Linked DNA regions of Homo sapiens. The protein of the gene in region 6 purifies or fractionates together with the protein of the main gene of each other region. This does not show direct contact. Each region holds a gene or a part of one and is shown on either strand. Other genes may lie near its edges.

What was found.
Region 1: the proteins of MYO10 (region 6) and PLOD1 purify together in Homo sapiens (affinity purification with mass spectrometry, with the first as the bait; one large-scale study listed by BioGRID). This does not show direct contact.
Region 2: the proteins of MYO10 (region 6) and SPRYD3 purify together in Homo sapiens (affinity purification with mass spectrometry, with the first as the bait; one large-scale study listed by BioGRID). This does not show direct contact.
Region 3: the proteins of MYO10 (region 6) and CRTAP purify together in Homo sapiens (affinity purification with mass spectrometry, with the first as the bait; one large-scale study listed by BioGRID). This does not show direct contact.
Region 4: the proteins of MYO10 (region 6) and COTL1 purify together in Homo sapiens (affinity purification with mass spectrometry, with the first as the bait; one large-scale study listed by BioGRID). This does not show direct contact.
Region 5: the proteins of MYO10 (region 6) and KRT74 purify together in Homo sapiens (affinity purification with mass spectrometry, with the first as the bait; one large-scale study listed by BioGRID). This does not show direct contact.
Region 7: the proteins of MYO10 (region 6) and SEC16A purify together in Homo sapiens (affinity purification with mass spectrometry, with the first as the bait; one large-scale study listed by BioGRID). This does not show direct contact.

What each region holds. Positions count from the first base shown.
Region 1 is NC_000001.11:11,972,717-11,976,037, reverse strand, and holds the end of PLOD1 (procollagen-lysine,2-oxoglutarate 5-dioxygenase 1 isoform 2 precursor), read right to left. Parts: intron 3,167-3,321; coding exon 3,041-3,166; intron 1,386-3,040; coding exon 1,230-1,385; 3' UTR 501-1,229; downstream 1-500. UniProt on the Homo sapiens protein: Part of a complex composed of PLOD1, P3H3 and P3H4 that catalyzes hydroxylation of lysine residues in collagen alpha chains and is required for normal assembly and cross-linkling of collagen fibrils.
Region 2 is NC_000012.12:53,069,391-53,072,890, reverse strand, and holds part of SPRYD3 (SPRY domain-containing protein 3), read left to right. Parts: intron 1-3,500.
Region 3 is NC_000003.12:33,117,014-33,120,513, forward strand, and holds part of CRTAP (cartilage-associated protein isoform 1 precursor), read left to right. Parts: intron 1-3,330; coding exon 3,331-3,480; intron 3,481-3,500. UniProt on the Homo sapiens protein: Necessary for efficient 3-hydroxylation of fibrillar collagen prolyl residues.
Region 4 is NC_000016.10:84,590,579-84,594,078, forward strand, and holds part of COTL1 (coactosin-like protein), read right to left. Parts: intron 1-3,500. UniProt on the Homo sapiens protein: Binds to F-actin in a calcium-independent manner. Has no direct effect on actin depolymerization. Acts as a chaperone for ALOX5 (5LO), influencing both its stability and activity in leukotrienes synthesis.
Region 5 is NC_000012.12:52,565,282-52,568,062, forward strand, and holds the end of KRT74 (keratin, type II cytoskeletal 74), read right to left. Parts: intron 2,413-2,781; coding exon 2,378-2,412; intron 1,888-2,377; coding exon 1,688-1,887; 3' UTR 501-1,687; downstream 1-500. UniProt on the Homo sapiens protein: Has a role in hair formation. Specific component of keratin intermediate filaments in the inner root sheath (IRS) of the hair follicle.
Region 6 is NC_000005.10:16,926,289-16,929,788, forward strand, and holds part of MYO10 (unconventional myosin-X), read right to left. Parts: intron 1-3,500. UniProt on the Homo sapiens protein: Myosins are actin-based motor molecules with ATPase activity. Unconventional myosins serve in intracellular movements. MYO10 binds to actin filaments and actin bundles and functions as a plus end-directed motor.
Region 7 is NC_000009.12:136,448,541-136,452,040, reverse strand, and holds part of SEC16A (protein transport protein Sec16A), read left to right. Parts: intron 1-632; coding exon 633-785; intron 786-3,500. UniProt on the Homo sapiens protein: Acts as a molecular scaffold that plays a key role in the organization of the endoplasmic reticulum exit sites (ERES), also known as transitional endoplasmic reticulum (tER).

The DNA.
Region 1 (3,321 bases), on a different chromosome or scaffold from region 6:
GTTTCTACAAAAAATACAAAAATGTGTCAGGCATGGATACCTATAATCCCAGCTACTCAGGGGTCGAGAGGCTAGCATGACCTTTCTTAAAGGCTCTAAAAAGAGGGCTCTTGGCCGGGCACGGTGGCTCATGCCTGTAATCCCAGCACTTTGGGAGGCCGAGGTGGGTGGATCATCTGAGGTCAGGAGTTCAAGACCAGCCAGACCAACCTGGTGAAACCCTTTCTTTAATAAAAAAACAAAAATTAGCCAGGCGTGGTGATGGGTGCCTGTAGCCCCAGCTGCTCGGAAGGCTGAGGCAGGAGAATTACTTGAACCCAGGAGGCGGGGGTTGCAGAAAGCGGGGATAGCGTCATTGCACTCCAGCCTGGAAGACAGAGTGAGACTCTGTCTCAAAAAAAGAAAAAAAAAAAAAAAGAGGGCTCTTAAAACCTCTCTCCCTGCAGACACTCACACCAAGACACACACACACCCACTCGCCCTGAGCATCTTCCCTTCAGTGGTTTAAATGACCTTTAATAGAAACTCTCCAGTTTCTGACGGTCTGTCCCTCTCTTCAGAGGCATCCAGGACAGGGTGACCCAGTGTGGTGTGTGGACCTGTCACTCCCCTCCCCACAGGCAAGTAGAAGATCGAGCTGTGCACAGATGCCTCTTCTGTCTCCCAAGAGGTTCTCTGGAGTCGCTGTCTCCAGGGGACTACGGTTTGCTCTCATGACCAGCCATGGAGGCAGAAGTCCCAGACTCAGGGCAGCCCTTGGAGTCTGATCCAGGTGTCTTTACCCCAAAACTTGAAGCAGAAGTCCCTGGTGCAACACCTGTGCCTGGGAGAAGCTCTGGCCATGGCTTCTCACCCAGACAGTCTTTCTGGGCAACTTGGGGAAGCCCCTGTTCTGCTCAAGTCTCACCCCATGGAAGAGGTGGGGGAAGGGGGCCTTGGTTTTTCAGGAAGACAGGTTGGAGAGCACGAGTCACTACAAAGCAGTAAAAGTGAATGGTGTCTCCAGGGGCTGGGTCCAGAACACCACGGAGAGCCCCAGCCATAAAGGTGTGTTCCGCCTCTGGCCTGCAGGAATCTCTTTGAATCTCTTTGATTGGTGGCTCCAAGAGCAATGGGAAGTCAACAGCCAGGAGGCTGGACTGGGTTCCCTGGGACCCCGAGGTCCCAGAGGCTGCTGGGCAGTGGTTGTCGGCAAAGAAGAAAGGTCCAAGAGGGTCAGGCCTGGCCAATTAGGGATCGACGAAGGAGACTGCGATGTAGCGGGTGCCCCTGGTGGTGGGGAGCCCCTCATGGTAATGCGTGAGTCGTCCAGGGTGCATGAGGGTCCAGCCCTTCCTTGGGGCTCGGATGGAACAGTTGTAGCGCAGGAACCGACAGCCCCCGCCCTGGGAGACAGAAAGCATCAGTGGCCTTTCCCCACCGCCCCCCTGCCCGTCTGTTCTCCCGTCATGATCTCCTGTCATGGCCAAGTGGCCCTCAGCACTGCCTGCCTGGGGATGCCTTCTGGAGTGACAGCCACAAGCGCTGCTAAGGAAGACACTAAATGAAGAGTAGTGGCCAGGAGTGGTGGCTCACGCCTGTAATCCCAGCACTTTGGCAGGCCAAGGCGGGTGGACCACCTGAGGTCAGGAGTTCAAGACCAGCATGGCCAACATGGTGAGACCCCATCTCTACTAAAAATACAAAAACCAGCTGGGTGTAGCAGCGCACGCCTGTAATCCCAGCTATTCGGGAAGCTGAGACAGAATCACTTGAACCCAGGAGGCAGTGAGCCGAGATCGCGCCACTGTACTCCAGCCTGGGCAACAGAATGAGACTGTCTCAAAAAAAAAAAAACCCAAAGAGTAAGTGATCAAGAGCTCTGTCCTTGGAGTCAGGCAGCCCTGGGCAGACATCACCTCCACTCTTTACTAACTGTGACCAACCTGAGCTTCAGTTTCCCCTTCTGTAAAATGAGGGTTAAACAGAACAGGATAGTGAGAATTAAATGAGATGTTACAATTGAGAGCTGAGGATCAAGCTTCCCAACCTCACCACTATAGACACTTTGCTGTGGAAGGCTGTCCCGGGCATCTCTGACTTCTACCCACTAGATGCCAGTAGCCCCTCATAGTTGTAAAAACCAATTATGTCTCCAGGTACTGCCAATGTCCCTTGCAGGCCACAGTTGCTCCTGGTTGAGAATCCTTGGATTAGGGATGCCTGATATGTTTGTTGTAAGCTCTCAAAAAATTATAGCTCCAGCCTGGGCAACATAGTGAAACCCCATCTCTAAAAGCAAGAAAAAAAATTAGCTGGCCATGGTGGCACACGCCTGTGGTCCCAACTACTTGGGGGGGCTGAGGTGGGAGGATTGCTTGGGCCCAGGAGGTTGAGGCTGCAGTGAACTGTGATCATGCCACTACACTCCAGCCTGGGTGACAGAGCAAGACCCTGTCTCGAAAAAGAAAAAAAAAAGGATTATAGCTGTTTTTATGAGTGTTCTCCACAGCACCCAGCCCAGGGCTAAGTTCAAAAAACCTCTTTTTGTTTTTTTTGGAGACAGAGTCTCGCTCTGTTGCCCAGGCTGGAGTGCAGTGGCATGATCTCAGCTCACTGCAACCTCCACCTCTTGGGTTCAAGAGATTCTCATGCCTCAGCCTTCTGGGTAGCTAAGATTACAGGTGTGTGCTACCACGCCCAGCTAATTTTTCTATTTTTAGTGGAAATGGGGTTTCGCCATGTTGGCCAGGCTGGTCTCAAACTCCTGGCCCCAAGTGATCTGCCTGCCTTGGCCTCCCAAACTGCTGGGATTGCAGGCATCAGCCACCATGCCGAGCCCAAAAATCTCTTAAAATAGTAGCTTAAGAGCCTGGCCCCTCCTCCTGCTAGACTGTGAACCCTTCCAGGAAGCCCTCCCACAGACCCACATCCTTTTTTTTCTGGTTCTCTGGCACTGGTTACCTGGGGCCCCTCTGCCTCAACCACCCTGAAGCCTCTCCTCAGCTAGCCCTCCTCATCCCCATTGCCGGCCCCTTGACCCCGGCTGGCTCCTGCTCACCTCGTAATCCACCCCGACTCGGTTCAGGGCGATGTTGATGGTGAAGGTGGAGGCATCATGGTGTGGCATCAGTGAGGGCTGCTCATCAGGCTTGTAGCGGACGACAAAGGCCAGGTCAAACTGGGCCTGTACCAAGGCAGGGGGACAAGAGAGCCCGTGTTAGTTAAGGAGGACACAAAGGCCAGGAGAGGAGGGTGCACACATGGGGCCTGGTCTGGCCTGCTGCAGGTCAGCTTACAGGGGCCAGGTCTACATGGGGCTCTATGCTCGAGTGCCTGCAA
Region 2 (3,500 bases), on a different chromosome or scaffold from region 6:
TGGTCAGAAGTCCACACATGTGGTGGAAGGTTCTTAGCCATCTTTTTTGAGGAAGTGTCAATGTCAGTTTCTATTGTCTTATCCCTGCATTTGATAGAGGATTAGAATGGAGGCAGATAAAGATTCAGTGAGCATCCTTACACCTCCAAACTTGCTTCATTTATCTTTTCCTCATACCTGCTTTAGTATGGATTTTAAGCTTCGTTGGGAAGCGTGTGGAGCTTGAGAAAGGGGAATTCTTCCTCCCCGGATTTTAAGTTTTGTTGGAAAATTCATGAACCTTGAGAAAGGAAAATTCTTCCTGTCTGCCTCAATACACTGTGCTGCATTGGGAGTGAATGGACGCCAAGTCCGGGATCTGGCCCTGACCTCTAGTGGGCTGCTCAGCCCTCCCACTTCGAATTGTCCCTCTCCTACCCCCTTGCTCCTGGCCTGGCCTTTTTCTCCACCCTCTGGCCTTTCCACCCCAACCCAGGCTGTTTTCAACTCAGTCTTTGATAACAAAACAGAAGCAGTGGGGGGTGGGAGCGGATTAGGAGCCAGGCCTCCCCCTGGTGGAGTGGAACTCAGGGAAAATGACAGGAAGTGTGCCCTCCTGCTGCTTCTGACACTCTGCACCCCCGTCTGGCATCAGGGTCCCAGGCTGCAGCGACCGAGAGCTAAGAGGCCTCAGATGCCCACTCCGTGACTCTCATGTCTTTCCTTTTTCCCCTCAATCTACCATCATTCTGACAACATCTACAGAGTTAAACTTGGGGCTGCGCCAGGGCGATGTTCCAGCTCTCATCTCTGACCTCTCCTCAAGAGTTTTTTCCTGGCATCCTTTCTCTGCCTGGACCTGTCCCCACTCTGCTCTCAGCTCCTCCCAGGCAATCTTTTCTAATTGATGCAGAATCCTGTAGACATTTATAAATAGCCTTCCTTCCTCCCCACCCTCCCCCCAACACCTTCAGCCACTTATTTAAGAGTGTTTTTCTTTTTTAGACATAAGCTGTTGAATTGGGCCCTTCTCTCAGACCCTCACCCCAGCTTGGGCCAGGTGGCAGGGTGGGAGCACTACTCCTGGGGCACCCGTTCCTCTGGGGCCAACTTGGATGTGAGCTTCCTGAGGGACATGTGCCTTTTTCCAGTCATGCCAACTTTCCTTTTTTTTTTTTTTTTTTTTTTAAGACAGGCTATCACTCTGTCACCCAGACTGGAGTGCTGGTTCACTTCAGCCTCCAACTCCCAGGCTCAAGGGATCCTCCCACCTTGGCCTCCCAAATTGCTGGGATTAGAGGCATGAGCCACTGCCCTGGGCCTCAACAGTTGTTAGATTTGAGTCTTTGGATATAGACAGACCTGGCTCTTTCTTGAGTGGAATTCTTCCCCTGCCTCCTGTGGCCTGTTTCCCCCTCCTAAAGAGTCTACCTCCTCAGAGCTCTGAGGGGTTGAGGAATTGCTGGGGCACTTGCCTCTCACCTCATCCCTGCCTCCAGGCCTCGCAAAGTGAGGTAATGTGGTGGAGGGGAGCTGGGGGCGGTAGGTAACAGCTGGGGGATTAGACTCATTCTGTGTTTGTGCCCTGTTCACAGCTCCTCTGACAACTCCTTAGTGACAGGGGCAACAGCTTTGGTACACACAGGGTGGTGAATGAGGCCCCGCCCTCCCAGGGGTCCTCCCCAGACCCAGCCCAGAGGGAGGCTGTGCTGGAGCCTGAGCTGGCCAGGAGAGTGTGTACTTGGTTCCTGTTTCAGTTGCTTCTGGGCCCTCAGGGCACTGAGCCCTTCCTTGCTCCTGTCAAGAGGGATTAGGGTCTCTGCTGGCAAGGGGAGGAGGGCGGATACCGGCAGGGGAGAAGAGGCTGGGAAGGTGCTACTGGTAGAGGGAGGGTGTGGAGTGCACGAGACTGTCCACACTCTGGTCTGCAGCCGCCACTCTGTGGCACTGAGTCATGTCTTTGGCTTCTTGGGGCTTTGGTGGTATGTGTGTATTAGGGGGAGACCCAAAGAAAGGGCTCCATCTTCCCCCACCAAAAATGCAGAGAAACATTTCTGTTGATTGGACATTGTTTGAGAGGAGACACATAGGGTAGAGTTGTCTGGGGAGTGGCCATCGTCCTGGTTGGCCTAAGGGACCATTGTAGTTGGAAGTAAGGGCTAAGATGAAAGATCATTTCCTTCTTTGTGATCGGCAATTCCAACGTAACCCCATTTACACTGATTTAGGGAGAGGCAGCAATGTGTATTGGTCACTTCATTAAGTCTTCCCACTTGTTTTTGGAAATTCAGGTAATCTTATCCCAGTTTACTGTTGAAGAAACCAAGGCTTAAGGAGGTGAATGTCATTTGCCTGAGGTTAGCGGCTGTTAAGTAATAGGAGTTAGGATTTGAACCCAGGTCTGTTGGATTCTGAGGTACAGGTTGAGGGACCAGCATCAAGATCCTAACAGTTCAGACTCTAAGGGTTAACCTTCACTCCTCCTCTAGGTTCCTAACAGCTATAGACCAAGGAGGCAGAGGAATGTACTCAAGAAAGAATCTGTCAGGGAGGCCAAATATTCCCCCCACTTCCACCCCTCTGAGTTCTCTGGGAAGGCTCAGGAGGGGTCGGGGGAGCTTTGTCCAGGAGCAGGAGAGTGGATCAGGAGGTTTATGATGGCTTTCACTGTGAGGGCTGGGCGGTCCCCTCTGAAGAGGGCACGCTGTACAAGCCTCACCTATACACTGTACAAGTACCTAGTCGTCCAGGACATCAGCATTCTGTCCGAAGTGCTCTGTGGTTGGCAGGTAGAGAGTGGGTTTTAAAGACCCATGTTGGGGTAGTCCGTCCTGGCTTTTAGCGTGAGAAAGCACCTCCACCCTATCCAGAGACAGAAATGCAGCAGCTACCCTCTTCTGAGCTGAGGCAAAGGGAGGGGCTGGCCGGGTATTTCCCAAGGATCAGGGTCTGGATCGGCTGTCTTTTGGCTCTGGAAATGGAGAACACTGTGTTTCCTACACCGAGGCCAGTTGGATAGAATGGGTCAAAGGCAGCTGTGGGGTCCCCCACCCAGTTCTGCAATGCTGGGTGGAGAGGGTGGGCTGGGGGCTGCTCTGCCTGGGTGGAGTCTAAACTAGTTAATGTGGATCAAGCCACACCCCTCCTGGCTTCCCGGGGAGAGAGGCAGAGGAGGAACCCAGGCTGAGCAGAGAATACACCATGAACAGAAGTCAAACAGTGTGGCCTTGGGGATGGGCTTAGGTGGTCTCCCGTGCATGCTGCTTTCCCCCTCATCCATCCCCAGTTATCTTTGGAGAGGAGGGAAGGATGGACTTGAGGTGGCGGGGCTGAGATCCAGGGCTGAGAAAGGCACCAAGCCCCTCTAGTCCTACTCTCAGAAGGGGTTAGTAGCACCCCGCTCTAAGCACCTGAGCTAAGCAGCGGCCGTCTGAGGCTGGGAGTGGGGATGCGGGAGCAGCCTCTGCTGGAGACACGCACAGGCTTCTGTGCTGGTGCAGGTGGGCATAATTCCTTTCCTG
Region 3 (3,500 bases), on a different chromosome or scaffold from region 6:
GGAGGATCACTTGAGCCCAGAAAGTCAAGGCTGCAGTGAGCTGTGATCTTACCACTGCACTCCAGCCTGGGTGACAGAACAAGACTCTTGTGTCAAAAAAAAGTGATGTTTACGTGTTTAAACTCTGTTTATGGATAGAGAGGAAAAGATGGGTGGCAGGCACATACATTCTACCTGGCACCTGAAGGCTGGAGGTCGATATGAAGGTAGATAGTGCGCTGTGGCAGGACATGGATAAATGTTACTCTGCTGTTCTGAGTTGCAGTTCTCTGTTTCAGTGATTAAGGAGAAATGCCTCAATTGATCACTGGAATAGCAATGGTGGGTTCCGACTGCCAGAGGGAGGCGAGGAGGTTTGGATGTGTGCTCTTGTAGAAAAGGGCTGTGCTACTGGTGTGCAGCCTCAGGTGCATCATAGGTTTCTCGTCACCAGCCTACTCTAGGTCCATGTCATTAGCTTTCTTTGGGTTCTCTCCACAATTACCATCTTCCACGAAAAACTCATTTTTCTCATAGGCCAAGCAAAAAGTAGGCCGGAGCACTTCATCAAATCCTTAATGACTGTTGAGCTCTAACCTGGACAGAGAACACTGACTCACAGGCACTGTTAACCCCAGGCCTTGCCTGGCTGTGGCCTCTAACTCCCCGGAACCACAGGGCCTGCCTCTGTGTCATGGCTGATTTAGGGTGGCTCATGCTGGTGGCTGTATCTCAGGAACCCAAGGCAAGGTGGTTCCCTCCATCCCTACCACCTTCTCCAAAATCTGCCTGGGGTCTGTCAGAGGTTTGGTAGCCAAGATGTGTCTCCATGTTCCAGCTGCAGAGCCTGAGTTGAAGTAAATAAAATCACTCTTTTCTCTTCAGGAAGAGATTCCGTTTTGTAAAACATCCTAAGTTAGAAGCCTTAAAAATCCTACTCTGTGCCCCTCTTTCTATTCCTTTCTTTCTTTCTTTCTTTCTTTTTTGAGACGGAATCTCACTGTGTCACCCAGACTGGAGTGCAGTGGTGCGATCCTGGCTCACTGCAACCTCCGCCCCCCGGGTTCAAGTGATTCTCCTGCCTCAGCCTCCCGAGTAGCTGGGATTACAAGCACCTGCCACTGTGCCTGGCTAATTTTTGTCTTTTTAGTAGAGATGGGGTTTCATCATCTTGGCCAGGCTGATCTTGGACTCCTGACCTCGTGATCCACCCACCTCGACCTCCTAAAGTGCTGGGATTACAGGCATGAGCCACTGCTCCCGGCCTCTGTGCCCCTCTTTCTAAGTGCTGTTCTGAGAATTAGTGACTCTAATTTCACTGGCAAATGCTTTAAAAGGCAGCATTCATACCCTCTCCCTTCCTTCCAGCTGAAGACTAGCCTTTTTCTGGCCAGGAGTGTGAAGCTTTCTGTAGGGCTGTTTTAAAGGCAGCCCTGCCACAAGCCACTAATTGGCATTCCCAAAACATCAGCATTGACATCTGGGAGTCTGCCCTCATCACCACCCACCACTTCTCTGATGTGGCCACTGCCATTGTCTCAAAATGACTTGGTTCCAATTCTGGGGCAATTCGGTACCGATATATGCCATCCTATGACTCTTAGAAGTCTAGGGTATACCAAATATTCCTTTATTTTCTCTGTCTAAACCGAATTCCCTAATTCCCGCCTTGGAGCGTCCCTCTGGATTGGCTGAGTCTCTGTGCACATGCACAGGTGCCTGCCCTTCTCCCTACTAGGTTGTGCCAAGAGTCCATCAGCATGGGGGCCCTCTGGTTGGTGGTCATGAGTCCTCACAGGGAGGCCTCTGCATCCTTATTTGCCTGCCCTCCTGAGGTCCTGCCATAACATACCTGTTCTTCCTGAGGACTTCTGCCGTCTTGAACACTGCCGATAAGTGCCAGCCCTGAAGCTCCGGGGCCCGCAGCCCTGCTGCTCTCACAGATCCCAAGGGAAACTTTTTTCCTAGCCTGGGAGATTCCCTTTCTCCCTCTTCTTCTCCCAGGCCAGTCAGCTTCTTCCTGCAGCTCCTCTCCAATTTCTTTCTCCCCTCAAACCTGTCAGGCTCTTTTGTGAGTGCAGGCTTTTTTCAAGTGAATAATTTGCTGGTTCTGACCAGATATCTACCTCCCCTGAGACAGTGAAACTCAGAATCATTGGCCCCTTCAATGGAGAGAAGACAGAGGGGAAAAGAGAGGAAAATGTGAATTAATTTTATTATATTTTATGGTCATAATGTCATTATGTTCAAATCACAGATACTTATTGTGTCCTGCCTTGTCCTGAGGACTGTGTGAGGCACCAGGAATCCAGATAATGAATGACACACAGCTGGGTCCCCCGAGGATCATAGTCTGATGGGGGAGATAGACGTACCACTGAGATTGTAGGGTGGCGTAAAATGCGGGAAGACAGAACCCAGAACTAGCCCAACAGAGAGGCTCTTAATTGAGGCCACTAGGAGACAGGGAGAACTTAACAGAATATATGGTCCATGCAGGTGGGGATTTTTTTTTCCTGTTTTGCTTATTGTTATAGACCCACAACCTAGAAATGGTGCTCTTGTAATATGACGTTTATTGCTGCATGAATGGATGAATAAGTGAGGAGGTGGTGGAGTCATTGAGAATGTTAGCAGAAGGTCTGTGGGGGATTTGGGAAAACAATATATTTGTCAAGGTGCCAGTGGAAAAGATATGGTGCAGTCATATTGGGTAATTGGAGGAAAGTTTAAGAAGGTGGTTATTTACAAAGGTGTGTGCAGTGCATGGGGAATCCACAAGAGATAGTGTTCTGCCACAGGGGTGATAGCAGTGGGATATGACCAACCCTAGGCCAAAAGGGGCAGGGGAGAGAGCAGTGATTGAAACCGGGAAGGAGGGAGACTCTATGGAGAGGGTCACCTTGAGAAGAACTGTGATCTTCAATTAAGGGACATAGCAGCCCAAGAGGACTGTGCAGGGAGGGAACCAGGAAATGAAATAACATGACCTTACTCTCTTCCCTTCCTCAGTCATCTACTGGGGCTCCTCATGGGTGAACCTCTTTGGAAGCCAGAGAGCGAGGGAGTCTGTTGTTATAGTCCACACAGGCCAGCCTCCTGGGGCATGTAGCCAGTGCAGAGTAGATTGGGAAAGGCAGACCGAGGCCATCCAGACAGTCGCTTTCAGGAAATCAGCACTTGTCTCACAGTGCCTGGACTTGGTCTTGAGGGGCCCTGGAAGTCATGGAACCTTTAGCTGGAAAAGTTATAGCAACACAAAGTTTCTGAAGGACTAAGCAGATATTCTTGTTTTACAAAAATTACCACTTAGCATCCATGGAGTAGCTTTTATGTTCTTTGTCCTTTTAGGCAAATAATCTCCCCAAAGCCATCGCCGCTGCTCACACCTTTCTACTGAAGCATCCTGATGACGAAATGATGAAGAGGAACATGGCATATTATAAGAGCCTGCCTGGTGCCGAGGACTACATTAAAGACCTGGAAACCAAGTCATATGAAGTATGTTTGGATTTTTATGT
Region 4 (3,500 bases), on a different chromosome or scaffold from region 6:
CCTTTCTGGCTGCAACGCCTACAGCCTTCCTACAATCAAGGCTCAAAGTCTGGGTGGGCCCATTGCACAGATGTGGGTGCCGCCAGCAGTGCCAGGGCCCAGCCAAAAAAAATTTAAAAATAAAAATTTAAAAAGGCTCAAATTATGGATCTTATTTAGGGACCAGAAATTCATCCTCTTTGTAGACCAGAAATTCATCAACTCTTTTTGCCTCAATCTTTGCAGTTTGGAATGAGACTCTACACTGTAGAGAGACAGGAGGGGCAAGGGGGGTGCTGGGTATGAAGAGGAAACAAAGAAAATGGCTCTTAATTTGGCCCGGGATATGGCTCCGAGGATATTTCACTTATGACTAGGGCAATTAGGTCAACAATGAATTCTGAACACATTTCCATTGGCTGTGTTATGCTTGTTCTATCTTATATAGTCATTTTTATTAAAATGGCTTTGAGGGCTATTTTGTTCCATTGATCCACATTAAGTTTTATTTCAATGCCACACTGTTTTTATTATCATGACTTTAAAATTTGTTTCACAATCCACTATGCTAAGTTCCCCCACCCTCCACTGCTCTGTATTATCAAAATATCATTTGATATTCTGGAATTTTTTTTTTTTTTTTTGAGACAGAGTCTCGCTCTGTCGCCCAGGCTGAAGTGCAGTGGCGCGATCTCGACTCACTGCAAGCTTGGCCTCTAGGGTTCACACCATTCTCCTGCCTCAGCCTCCCGAGTAGCTGGGACTACAGGCGCCCACCACCACACCTGGCTAATTTTTTGTATTTTTAGTAGAGATGGGGTTTCACTGTGTTAGCCAGGATGAATCTTGATCTCCTGACCTTGTATTCCACCCGCCTCAGCCTCCCAAAGTGCTGGGATTACAGGCGTGAGCCACCGCGCCCAGCCTGATTTTTTGAATTTTTAAAGTGATGTGTGTATTGGCCAGGTATGGTGGCTCACCCCTGTAATCCCAGCACTTTGGGAGGCAAAGGTGGGAGGATCACTTCAGCCCAAGAGCTTGAGACCAACCTGGGCAACATGGAGAAATCACCTCTCTAAAAAAAAAAAAAAAAAAAAAAAAAAAAAAACCAAAAAATTAGCTGGGCACGGTGGCAGGCACCTGTAGTCCCAGCTACCAGGGAGGCTAAGGTGGGAGGATCACTTGAGCCCAGGAGGTTGAGACTGCAGTTGAGTAGAGATTACGCCACTGTACTCCAGCCTGGGTGGCCAACTGAGACCCTGTCTCAAATAAAATAAAATAAAATAAAATAAAATAAAATAAAATAAAATAAAATAAAATAAAAATATGTGCGTGCATGTGTATGTGTGCATTGCATGTGTGTGCGTGTGCATGCGGGTGCATGTGTACCCCACTAGGATAAACCAAAATTGTTCAACATCAGCTCAACTGGCATCTGGGGCCAGATCATTCTCTCTGGTAGGAACCATCCCGTAAATTGCAGGGTGCTGAGCAGCACCCCTCACCTGGCCCCACCAGTTATGACAAACAAAAATGCCTCCATACATTGCAGATGTCCTCCAAAGGGGGCAGAACACCCCCAGTTGAGAACCTCTGCTGTAAACCGTTGGTGTCCCCATTTAATTGGGACCCCTTTTGTGTTTTCCAACAAAGTTCTGTGCCTCTTGAGGGGATCACATATCCTTATTCAGCTTACTTCACAAACAGTTCATATTTTAACTGCCATTATCACCAAGATCTCATTACAATTCCTAAGTGGTGGTTGCTGGCACATAGGGATGCCACTGGTTTGGAGTCATTCACCTTGTATTAGCCACTTGCATAAACTGATGCTCTCTCAGGGCGTTTAGTTGCTGGTGTGAGGGTTTCTCAGGCACCTAATGATATCGTAGAGCGATATGTTTGCTTCTCAAACATTGTGTGGATTTGAATCACTGGGGAAATCTTAAACGCAGCTTCTGATTAAACAGCTCTGGGGTCTACGCTTCTAAGAAGCTTCCCAGTGATGCTGATGCTACTGGTCAAAGGATCACACTGAGTTAAAAAAAAAAAAAAAAATCAATCTGCGTTTCTTCCTAGAATCTAAGTACGTCCCTGCAGAGTCCCGCACGAAGCATGTAGGTTAGCACCAAGACCCAAGGACACAAACCACCTGTCTACAGGAGATACTGGCCTGCAGCTGACAAGCTCACTTCCTGGTGATTATCTCAAAACCGGAGGGGGTAACCAGCACGTTCGCCTTCAACAAGAAGCCGGGTGGTCTAACGGGTCATCCATTTGTCCCCGGGAGCTAAGGAACACGCAGCTCTCAGCAGACCATGAATGCGTGATCCTAGCTGCAGTCCAGGGTCAGGGACTCCACAACACTTACTTCTTAAAGGAAACTGATCGTCATCACCACTCACATTGGCACACCACTTTTCAGTTTACAAAACATGCTTCTATTTCATCTCATTTGGTCTTTGTAACAACGCTGGGAGGCAGATGAGGTAGAGACGTCATGGCCACTTTCATCATCAACATCCAAATCACCTTCATTGATAAGGGCTGGAGGCTCAGAGGCCACGTGATGTGGCCAGACTCTCAACACGAGGCCAGAGCCAAGGGCCTGGACACCTTGGGTGTGTGTGCTCAGCCCCCTTTCTCCAGGGAAATGCCCCACCAGGCCATGGCTATCTGGGGGTCAGTAGGTAACAACGCAGCAGGGATAGAAGGAAGGATGGTCTCAGGGACACTGCGCAGGTGAATCCACAGGGCCTGGTGACCAACTGGATGTGAGAAGGTGAGGACAGAGGAGTCCAGGGCACAGGAGACCCCGAGGGGTGAGGGCCCCACCTCCCATGCCCCGGGGACTGTGCCTGAATTCCCAAACATCAGCCTGGGCTGCCTCACCTGTAAAACACGTTCTTTTCTTTATTGAGATAAAAGTCACATAACAAAATTCACCATTTTAACCACTTTTTTTTTTTTTGAGAAGGGAGTCTCGCTCCGTCGCCCAGGCTGGAGTGCAGTGGCGCGATCTCGGCTCACTGCAAGCTCCGCCTCCCGGGTTCACACCATTCTCCTGCCTCAGCCCCCCGAGTAGCTGGGACTACAGGCGCCCGCCACCACGCCCGGCTAATTTTTTGTATTTTTAGTAGAGACGGGGTTTCACCGTGGTCTTGATCTCCTGACCTCGTGATCCGCCCACCTCGGCCTCCCAAAGTGCTGGGATTACAAGCGTGAGCCACCGCGCCCGGCCATTTTAACCACTTTAAAGCATCCAATTCAGTGGCTTTAAGGACACTCACAATGTTGTGCCATCATCGCTACTATCTAATTTCACCACTCCAACGAGAACTCCCGTCCTCAAGAACAGTCACTCCCCATTCTCCACCCCATTCCCCCAGGCCCTGGCAGCCACTCTTCCACTTTCTGTCTCTATGGATTGGCCTGTGCTGGACATTTCATTGAAATGGACTCATATGCTATGTGGCCTCTGCGGTCTGGCTTTCACTCAGCGTCACATCTCCAAGGATCAT
Region 5 (2,781 bases), on a different chromosome or scaffold from region 6:
GTATCTCATTATGCACATGCAAACATTTCAAAATCCAAAGTCAGGAATGTTTCTGGTCCCAAGAATTTTGGATAAGGTATACCCAATCTGTATTGACTTTGGAAAATCTGAGATCTCCCACCCCCTACTAAATAAGCACATGAAAGCCTGTGTCCAAACTACTATGTTGCTGTGATTTAAATTCCCTCTCCAGGAGCCCATGTGTCCATCTTTCTGGTTATTTAATTAAACTCTCCTCCTCTTCCAGGAAGCCTTCCTTGCTTAGCCTCTCTATTCCAGTCCCTTACTAGCATTGCTGCCTTAGGCTGCCCTTCCCTGATTTACATGAGTGTGTATCTGTCTCTTCCAGCAGCCTGAGATTGCCTCCAGAGCAGCCTCATCTGAGTTGGCCTGCAGCTTCCCAGCAAGAGTCCTGCACGCTTGCTGGGGAGAAATGGAGGGTGGCACATCATCACTAGAGGGTGGAACATTTGGAAAGATTAACAGACTGACAGAAGCATACCTCTGACAACACTCAAGGACAACTTAATGAATATACAGCAGAAATTCAGAGTCTTTAATTCAAACAAAAGAGGAAATAGATGCTGCCATTCTTAGGAATATTTACACCCTGAGCCACGACATCTGGACTAGGCAGTAGCACTCAGCGACAGAAAAGCCAGCTCCACTCACTGAGCTCAGCTCATGGCACCAAAAATTGAGAGTCAGAAGCTATGTAGGACACAGCCCCAGAGAGACTGTGGAAGACAAATCACATACCCACAGTCCTGACAAAAGGCAATGTAATTACGCTGCCCTCATCAAAAAGAATGGTGACTTTGACAGCCCTTTTGTTAAAAAGGCAGTGACACACCACAGAAAAAGCATAGATCCTTGTGTCGGCCAGGCCTGACTCTGGCACATAGGTGGGTGACTGGGGCCAGTTCAGCAGCCTCTTGGGATCAGGCTCCCAGTCTGTTCCAAGGATGCTCATTGCATCTTCTTTGCAGGAATGGATGAGAACAGGAGGCAATATGTGTAGGGTGTCTGGCATCTAGTAGGTGCTTGACAAATGATGGTAGCTATTGCTGATAATGAAGGAGGTGGGTGGGTGACACAGGCTGGCAGAGAATCCCCAATACACCTTCACTTGGCTTTGTGGAGATGGGTGCAGCTGGTGGTCTACAGATGTACACGTGGTGTCCTAAATATTGGCGTCATCCTGCAAAGTTGTTTCTGATGGAGCAAGTAAAGGCTGTCTAACTTCTCACCACCTGCTTACAGGTCTCGTGTCACCCCACCATGCTGGCAGGGGATGTAAAACCTCTCAGACAGTAGCTAACTTGGCCTAAGCACAGAACAAACCAGCCCCTCCCCTGTCGTCTCCTGCTCCTTCCCTCTTTCTAGGGATGATCACAGCTTCCTTAGGGCCAAGAAGGTTATAATGGCTTGTGCCTCCAAAGCCTCCTGCCAGCCAAAGGCAGCGAGGAAAATGAGAAGTCGTTAGTCCACATGGGACCTAAGGAAACAGGGAAGGTGACTGTGTCAATCAGAGCTTGAAAGTAAAAGCTAAACCACGATGCAGACAGTTGAGTGTACTACAGACAGTTTTAAAACTCAGGGCCTGGGAACTTGGGTGTGGCAGACACCTTTGGGGGTGGCAAAGTCACCTCTTCTTCCAAGTGCTGAGGTGGGTGAGGCCATGGGTCTAGCGGGTGGCTTTCCTTGCTGGGATGCTGGCTGGGGTGCTCTTGCCCTGGGTGTCCTTGAGGTCTCCCCCTCGCGCCTCTGTGGTCTTGGTCTGCCCGCTCTGGGTGCTGCCAGAGCTGCCTGCCACAGCGCTGGCCCCAAGGTCAACACCCGCAGAGCTGGGGTGGTGGTAGCTGTAGCTGCTACTGCTGATGACAGCTGAGGAGGAGGGGCCAAGAGCAGGGGAGAGGAGCAGTGTCAATCAGCAGATAACAGCTATGGTAACGGCTGTCCCCAAGGGCTTCTCCACAACAACACCTCATTTAATCCGCAGAACCACCCTCAGTAGTCAAGAAGCACTACAGAGATGAACTGAGAGCCTATTACGGGCCGGACTTCGTGTGAGGTGAAGACCCCATCAGATAGATACAGTCCCTGCCCTCCTGGAAATGCTAGGAAAATCCATGTCCACCAACCCTTTCTCCAAATGACAACGTCCCAGGGGAGAAACAGGAAGGGAAAAGGGTGGGCATGACCTCAGTCACCATTTCACAGGATGAAAAGGGAGAACATTTCCTTTGAAGCCCAGAAACCTTCCCAAGACAGTAACAGAAGCTTCTTGGGAGGTGAGACAGTAAATGGAGGTGACATCACTTTGTCCCAGGGTCCCTGGCTTTCCCAACCCAAGGCATCTCTCAAGAATACTCACAGATGCTCACAGAGGATGGATTCTCACCAGACATCCTGTGAGACAGAAAGTTAGAGAAAGATAAAAACTCAGTGTCGAGATTCCACTAAACATCAATGGGCTCCTGCTTTTATACGTGCATCATTTAAACTCATCCTTATAACAACTTACGAAACTGACACTATCGCCTTCATCTTACAGATGAGAAAACAAGAGTCCTGGAGATACTAGATGATTTACCGAGACCACACCACTAGCATAGGATAAAGCCAATAATTAGCCCCTGCTGAAGAGCCAGTCATTAGCCCCAGGTCTGTCTGAGCCCCCGGTTCTCATCACAGCAGCACACGGCCATCTACGCTTCATGGCTCATGTCCAACAACCCCTTGCAGGAAGCTGCCTCTGAGTTCACGAAATCACCACAT
Region 6 (3,500 bases):
TATCATATGCAATCTCATTCTTTTTTTAATCTAAATAGTGCTGTATGAATTTCGCTGACAATGTCAGTAACTACTGTCCTGCCTCAGCAAAGCAGGCCATCTCTAGACTTAGATTAAGAAAAGAACAATCTGGCCAGGTGGGGTGGCTCACGCCTGTAATCCCAGAACTTCCGGAGGCCAAGGCTAGTGGATCAATTGAGGTCACAAGCTTCAGATCAGCCTGGCCAACATGATGAAACCCCGTCTCTACTGTAAATACAAAAATTAGCCAGGCATGGTGGCACACACTTGTAATCCCAGCTACGTGGGAGGCTGAGGCAGAAGGATTGCTTGAACTCGGGAGGTGGAGGTTGCAGTGAGCCAAAATTGCGCCACTACACTCCAGCCTGGGCGAAAGAGGAAGACTCTGTCCCAGCAAAAAAAAAAAAAAGAACAATCTAAGAACCACAAAGAAAGGTTCTCCACCTTGGTATTACTGTCCGTAAAACAAACTATTGTGACAATCTTGACTCTAACCACATAACAAGTGAGTTTGCTAAAATATGGACAAAAAAATAGATTTATGAAAAATATACTATGGAGTATACGTATTTATTACTCATGAAACATCAACAGAACACCCAGACATAGGCAACTGTAATTAAATTCACTCATGTTTGATATTTTGCTGACTTTCAGCAATAAAACCCATAGCTTTAAACATGTTTGTTGATTCTGCCCTAATGACAGATGTATTTGTCCAGGCAGAGTAGAAGCCATTTTATTTACCAATTTGTAAGCATGGTTTATAACTTTTAAATGTTTAGGTATGTGATATGGGAACTGAATTTGTACTCTTGCCTCTGGCCCCACAAATGATATTTAAAGCTTTTCTCAATCAACTCTTCAGTGAAAAACATTACAGGTGTGTTTTATCAGAAACATATATATGAAGGCATAAAAAAAAAGTCTCAATGCATCTACCACAAACATGAAGAGCCACACCATGGGAGCTTCTTTGTGTCTTCTGCTTATGGTATTTTCTTTTGTTTGTTTGTTTATTTATTTATTTATTGAGATGGAGTCTTGCTCTGTTGCCCAGGCTGGAGTGCAGTGGCACAATCTCGGCTCACTGGAAGCTCCGCCTCCCAGGTTCATGCCATTCTCCTGCCTCATCCTCCCGAGTAGCTGGGACTACAGGTGCCAGCCACCACGCCCAGCTAGTTTTTTGTATTTTTAGTAGAGACGGGGTTTCACCATGTTAGCCAGGATGGTCTGGATCTCCTGACCTCGTGATCCTCCTGCCTCGGCCTCCCAAAGTGCTGAGATTACAGGCTTGAGCCACCGCGCCCGGCCTTTAACTGCCGTAATTTAAAATGCTTTTATACGGAGGCAATTTTAATCCTTAAGAGCAGGCAGGGAGTCGGACTGGGTGAAGGTAGAGCTATTAGTTGGACAATTCCCATATGTTTCTCCCTTGTTCTAGCTGTATTTCAACAGATGTGTTGTGGCTTTGTCCCCAAAACTCTAATGTCTTTTCCTGTAACTGGCAGCATTAGATGACATGATGTCATGTGACATGAGGTGCTAGATTTACTTTAGGCCTGGTGGAAATATTTTCTGAACACCTCTTAGCAAGGCAGCAAAATGTTTTATTCAAGGAATGCTCTTGGGAAAACGACCCAATGTCCTGTCAATAACTGTTCCATGGGTATCGATAAGCTAACAAGCAAATGATAGGTGATATGAAGAAACTCCAACAAAGCACTCAGAATCTTTAACTGAAAAAGAAGATTCTATCAAAAAACCTCAAGTAACACTTCACTAATTAATTGACAGCTGGAATTAGGGAAACAAATGAGTCCCACATTTTCTTTTAATAAACACTTCTCAAATCATCTTGTTTTCTAAGTGCTTTATTTTGTTTTAATATTTTTATTATTACTATTACAATTTTGGAGACAGTCTCCCTCTGTCACCCAGGCTGGAGTGCAGTGGCTCACCGTAATCTTCACCTCCCGGATTCAACCGATTCTCCTGCCTCAGCCTTCCAAGTAGTTGCGATTACAGGCCCATGTCACCACGCCCAGCTAATTTTTGGATTTTATTAGAGACAGGGTTTCACTATGTTGCCCAGGCTGGTCTCGAACTCCTGACCTCAGGTATCCACCTGCCTCGGCCTCCCAAAGTGCTGGGATTACAGGCATGAGCACATGGCCCTAAGTGCTTTAGTATGTAAACCTTCCTACTATCCTCATGAAGTTGGGACAACCAGCTTTAGAAACCACACTTTATGGGCCGGGCATGACGGCTCACACCTGTAATCCCAGCACTTTGGGAGGCTGTGACGGGTGGATCACAAGGTCTGGAAATCGAGACCATTCTGGCCAACAAGGTGAAACCCCATCTCTACTAAAAATATCAAAAATTAGCCGGGTGTGGTGGCAGGCGCCTGTAGTCCCAGCTACTTGGGAGGCTAAGGCAGGAGAATCGCTTGAACCTGGGAGGTGGAGGTTGCAGTGAGCCGAGATCACACCATTGCACTCCAGCCTGGGCGACAGAGCAAGACTCCATCTCAAAAAACAACAACAACAACAAAAACACACACACACATTTTTAGAAGGAAACAGAAGGCGCTTGGCTTTCCCAAAAAAAGCAAATCAAATAAAAATTAGTGGCATGTTTTTTTTTTGGTTTTTTTTTGAGACGGAGTCTTGCTCTGTCGCCCAGGCTGGAGTGCAGTGGCGCGATCTCAGCTCACTGCAAGCTCCGCCTCCTGGGTTCACGCCCTTCTCCTGCCTCAGCCTCCCGAGTAGCTGGGACTACAGGTGCCCGCCACCATGCCCGGCTCATTTTTTGTATTTTTAGTAGAGATGGGGGTTTCACCGTGTTAGCCAGGATGGTCTCCATCTCCTGACCTCGTGATCCGCCCACCTCGGCCTCCCAAAGTGCTGGGATTACAGGCATGAGCCACTGCACCCGGCCAAATCAGTGGCATGTTCAAAAGCTGATGAACATTTTCCTGCGGAGTTTTCAACATTTCTAGGGTGTGGACTACTTGTTTTCCTAAACTCCCATGCAGTTTTCCACTTGAAAATCATTTAATAACTGCCCACTTTTAGGGCATTTCATCAGAGAGCCTAGAGAAGATGACGCAAGTTTAAGGCAAAGGACATCAACAGGACAGAAAAGCATGGCAGTGAAGAACTCTCTGTGGCTCTGGACACAGCCTGTCTGGGTTCAAATCCTGGCTATCGTTTTCTAGCTGTGTGACACTGAGTCAGTTACTTAACCTCTCTGTGCCTCACTTTCTTCATCTATGGATTGGGTATAATTATAGAGCCTTTCCCATAGGGTTGTTCAAGGGATTAAATGAGTCACTAAATGTGAAGTGCCAGCAACATGCCTGGCACATGGTAAGTACAGTTGTCCCTATGTATCTATAGGGAACTGGTTCCAAGACCTTCCCCAGATACCAAAATCCATGGGGAAAAGTCTACATGTTCAGTACAGATGCAATT
Region 7 (3,500 bases), on a different chromosome or scaffold from region 6:
AGACATGTTTGGTATAAATACCTCCTCTGTTTGCTCTACTCCTAACCAGGAGGGATGGTTGCTTTTATACAGACCGCATTCTGGAACCTTCTTTACAGATACCCAGCCCTTCACGGGCATCCCATCAGTAGGCGATTGCTATAGTTTGAACTTGCATTAGGTGTTTTACCCTTTAAAATACTGTGTCCCTGGAAAAGTAAAAATGAGGGTTGAGCTATTAAAAATTGGGACTTGACCCAGGAATAAATATTTTTAAAAATCATTGTATCTTTGAGAACACCCATCGCCCCCCTCTGGCCAGTCTTCCCTCAGTGCATGCTCACACTCCGTTTCTTCCAGCCCGGAATCTCCATCGAACGCCCTCATTTGCATTCTGAGTGCTGAGTGCTCCCAGACGGAGCTGCTTATTAAGTGCGGCTGGCTCTTCTCTAGTCAGGCCAGGTAGAGGCTCTGGGAGGCCCAGTCAGGGGGCTGCTCTCCCCAGCCCCCTTCCTGCCTCCCTCTGGTCACCAGAGTCATCCGGCCTCTCAGTGATGTATTTAGGAAACACGCCTGGGGAATTGCATCCCCCTCTCTCTTTCGGTTCCTGTGAGGAGCCCCAGGAGAGCCTGTTCTGCATTTCCTTGCGACAGACCCCCTCGAGGACGGTGCCAGACTCGGAGGCCCCCCCAGGGTGGGATCGTGCCGACTCGGGTCCCACGCAGCCACCTCTGTCTCTCTCACCCGCTCCCGAAACAAAGAGACCCGGACAGGCAGCCAAGAAAGAAACGAAGGAACCTAAGAAGGTAGTACAGCCTGCCCACGGTGCGCCTGGCGGCCGGGAGGGTTTGGGCAGGAGGCACGCTTCCCAGAGCGCCATCCTCTTAATTCACCACACATGCAAATAGCCTCCTGATACAAACAGCCGAGTGTCTACAGTGCACACGGCATGATGGGTGTCTGTGTATTTGTGCCTTCAGATAATAGGATAATAGCCCACCCAGGTCAGCATGGGGACACAGCCCGGCCCCCAGAGGTCGCCTCTGGCCACTACCTGTCAGACCCACCCGCAAGGGACCAGACGGCAGCCGCTGCTTTGTCACTGTGGTGTGTGCCTGCTGCCGGCTCACAGATCCTTTCTCCCAGCCGTGGACTTTGGGACTGCTTTCAGTGTGGGGCTGGGATCCGTCAGGCCCCAGGAGCCTCCTTGCCTATCTATTGGCGAATGCGCTTGTTTTTCTTAGGTGCGTGCCAAGGAGCTGAGGGTTTAGCTCGCAGGATGAGCGTGTGTTCAGCTTTAGGAGACACTGCTGAGCAGTTGTCCTAAATGGTTGGTTGCCCCAAGTCACACATCCTGCAGCAGAGGACAAGGGCCCTGGATATCCCTCATCTTCACCAATACTGGGCAGTGCCGGTTCTTTAACTTAGCCATTGTGCTGGGGCTGATGACATCTCATTGTGTCTTCCTCTGCATCTCCACAGCGAGGTGTGACGCTGGGCACCTTCTCGTGTCCCTGTTACCATCTCACCACTCTTTTGGGGCAGTGCTTGTTCAAGTCTCTATCCGTTGTTTTTTTTTTCCCCCATAAAGATGGGGTCTCACTATTGCCCAGGCTGGTCTCAAACTCCTGGGCCCAAGTGATCCTCCTGCCTCGTAGCTGGGACTGCAGGTGTAGCCACCACACCTGGCTTTCCTTTCCATTTTTAATGGTGTTCTCTTCAGGACTTGCAGGAGTCCTTTCTGTATTATGGATATAAGTCCTCTGTTAGGTGTATTTATTGTGATATCTTCTCCCAATCTGTAGATTGCCTTTTTACTTGTAATGGTTTTTTGTTTGTTTGTTTGTTTGTTTGTTTTGAGACAGGGTCTCACTCTGTCAGCCAGGCTGGAGTGCATTGGCATGATCTTGGCTCACTGCAACCTCCGCCTCCCAGGTTCAAGCAATTCTCCTGCCTCAGCCTCTCCAGTAGCTGGGATTACAGGTGCCCACCCCACTCCCAGCTAATTTTTTGTATTTTTAGTAGAGATGGGGTTTCACCATGTTGGCCAGGCTGGTCTCAAACTCCTGACCTCAAGTGATCTGCCTGCCTTGGCCTCCCAAAGTACTGGGATTACAGGTGTGAGCCACCATGCCCGGCCTAGTAATGGTATTTTATGAAAAATATCATTCTTCATTTTAATAAAGTTCAGTGATCAGATTTTTCTTTTATGGCTGCTGTCTTGAAAATAAACACACATTTAATTCCAAATTTGTGTGAGCTCTGAGATAAAACATGATACTTGAGCAGGTTTCCAGTGCATAGGCTATCACAGGCCTCCCCGGGACAGCTTGTCTGGCCAGTAGAACTCACAGAGAAACAGAATTGAGGGTGTGTAGTAGCTGCTGAGGCTTCTCCTCTTTCTTCAGTAGAAGTGAAGTGCATCAGGCCGGGCATGGCGGCTCACACCTGTCACCCCAGCACTCTGGGAGGCCGGGCGCAGCAGCTCCTGCCTGTCACCCCAGCATTCTGGGAGTCAGGGTGCGGCGGCTCACGCCTGTCACCCCAGCACTCTGGGATGCTGAGGCGAGCAGATCATGAGGTCAGGAGTTCACGATCAGCGTGGCCAAGATGGTGAAACCCCATCTCTACTAAAAATACAAAAATTAGCCATGCATGGTGGTGGGTGCCTGTAATCCCAGCTACTCAGGAGGTTGAGGCATAGAACTACTTGAACCCGGGAGGCAGAGGTTGCAGTGCGCCGAGATCGCGCCATTGCACTCCAGCCTGGGGGACAGAGCGAGACTCTGTCTCAGAAAACTAACAAACCAAAATGAAGTGCATCATGTGAAGAATAAAGTAAAGTTTCCTAATAACCGAATTCTCCACACATGGGAAACACAGAGGGCTGTATCTGCCTCCGACACACACTGACTTGGACAGCCCGCCTTCCACTTCTCAAAGGGGAGGACGTCGGAAGCTTTGTCAGTGTTTAGACGTAAAAAGTTCCTGAAGGCACGTTACTGTTCTGACCTATTTAAATGACAGTAAAATACACAGAACAAAATGCACATTTTTACCATTTTCTGAGTGCACAGTTCTGTGGCACCAAGTACATTCACACTGTTGTGTTGCCATCACCACCATCCATCTCCAGAACTGTCTCACCTTCCCAAACAGAAACTCTGTCTCCTTGAAACGAAACAACTCCCGGTTCCCTCCCACCTCCATCCTCCTGGTGTCTCTGGATCTGCTTCCCACCTCCATCCTCCTGGTGTCTCTGTGGATCTGCTCCCCACCTCCATCCTCCTGGTGTCTCTGTGGATCTGCCCCCCACCTCCATCCTCCTGGTGTCTCTGTGGATCTGCCCCCGACCTCCATTCTCCTGGTGTCTCTGGATCTGCTCCCCACCTCCATCCTCCTGGTGTCTCTGTGGATCTGCTCCCCACCTCCATCCTCCTGGTGTGTCTGGATCTGCTCCCCACCTCCATCCTGGTGTCTCTATGGATCTGCTCCCCACCTCCATCCTCCTGGCGTCTCTG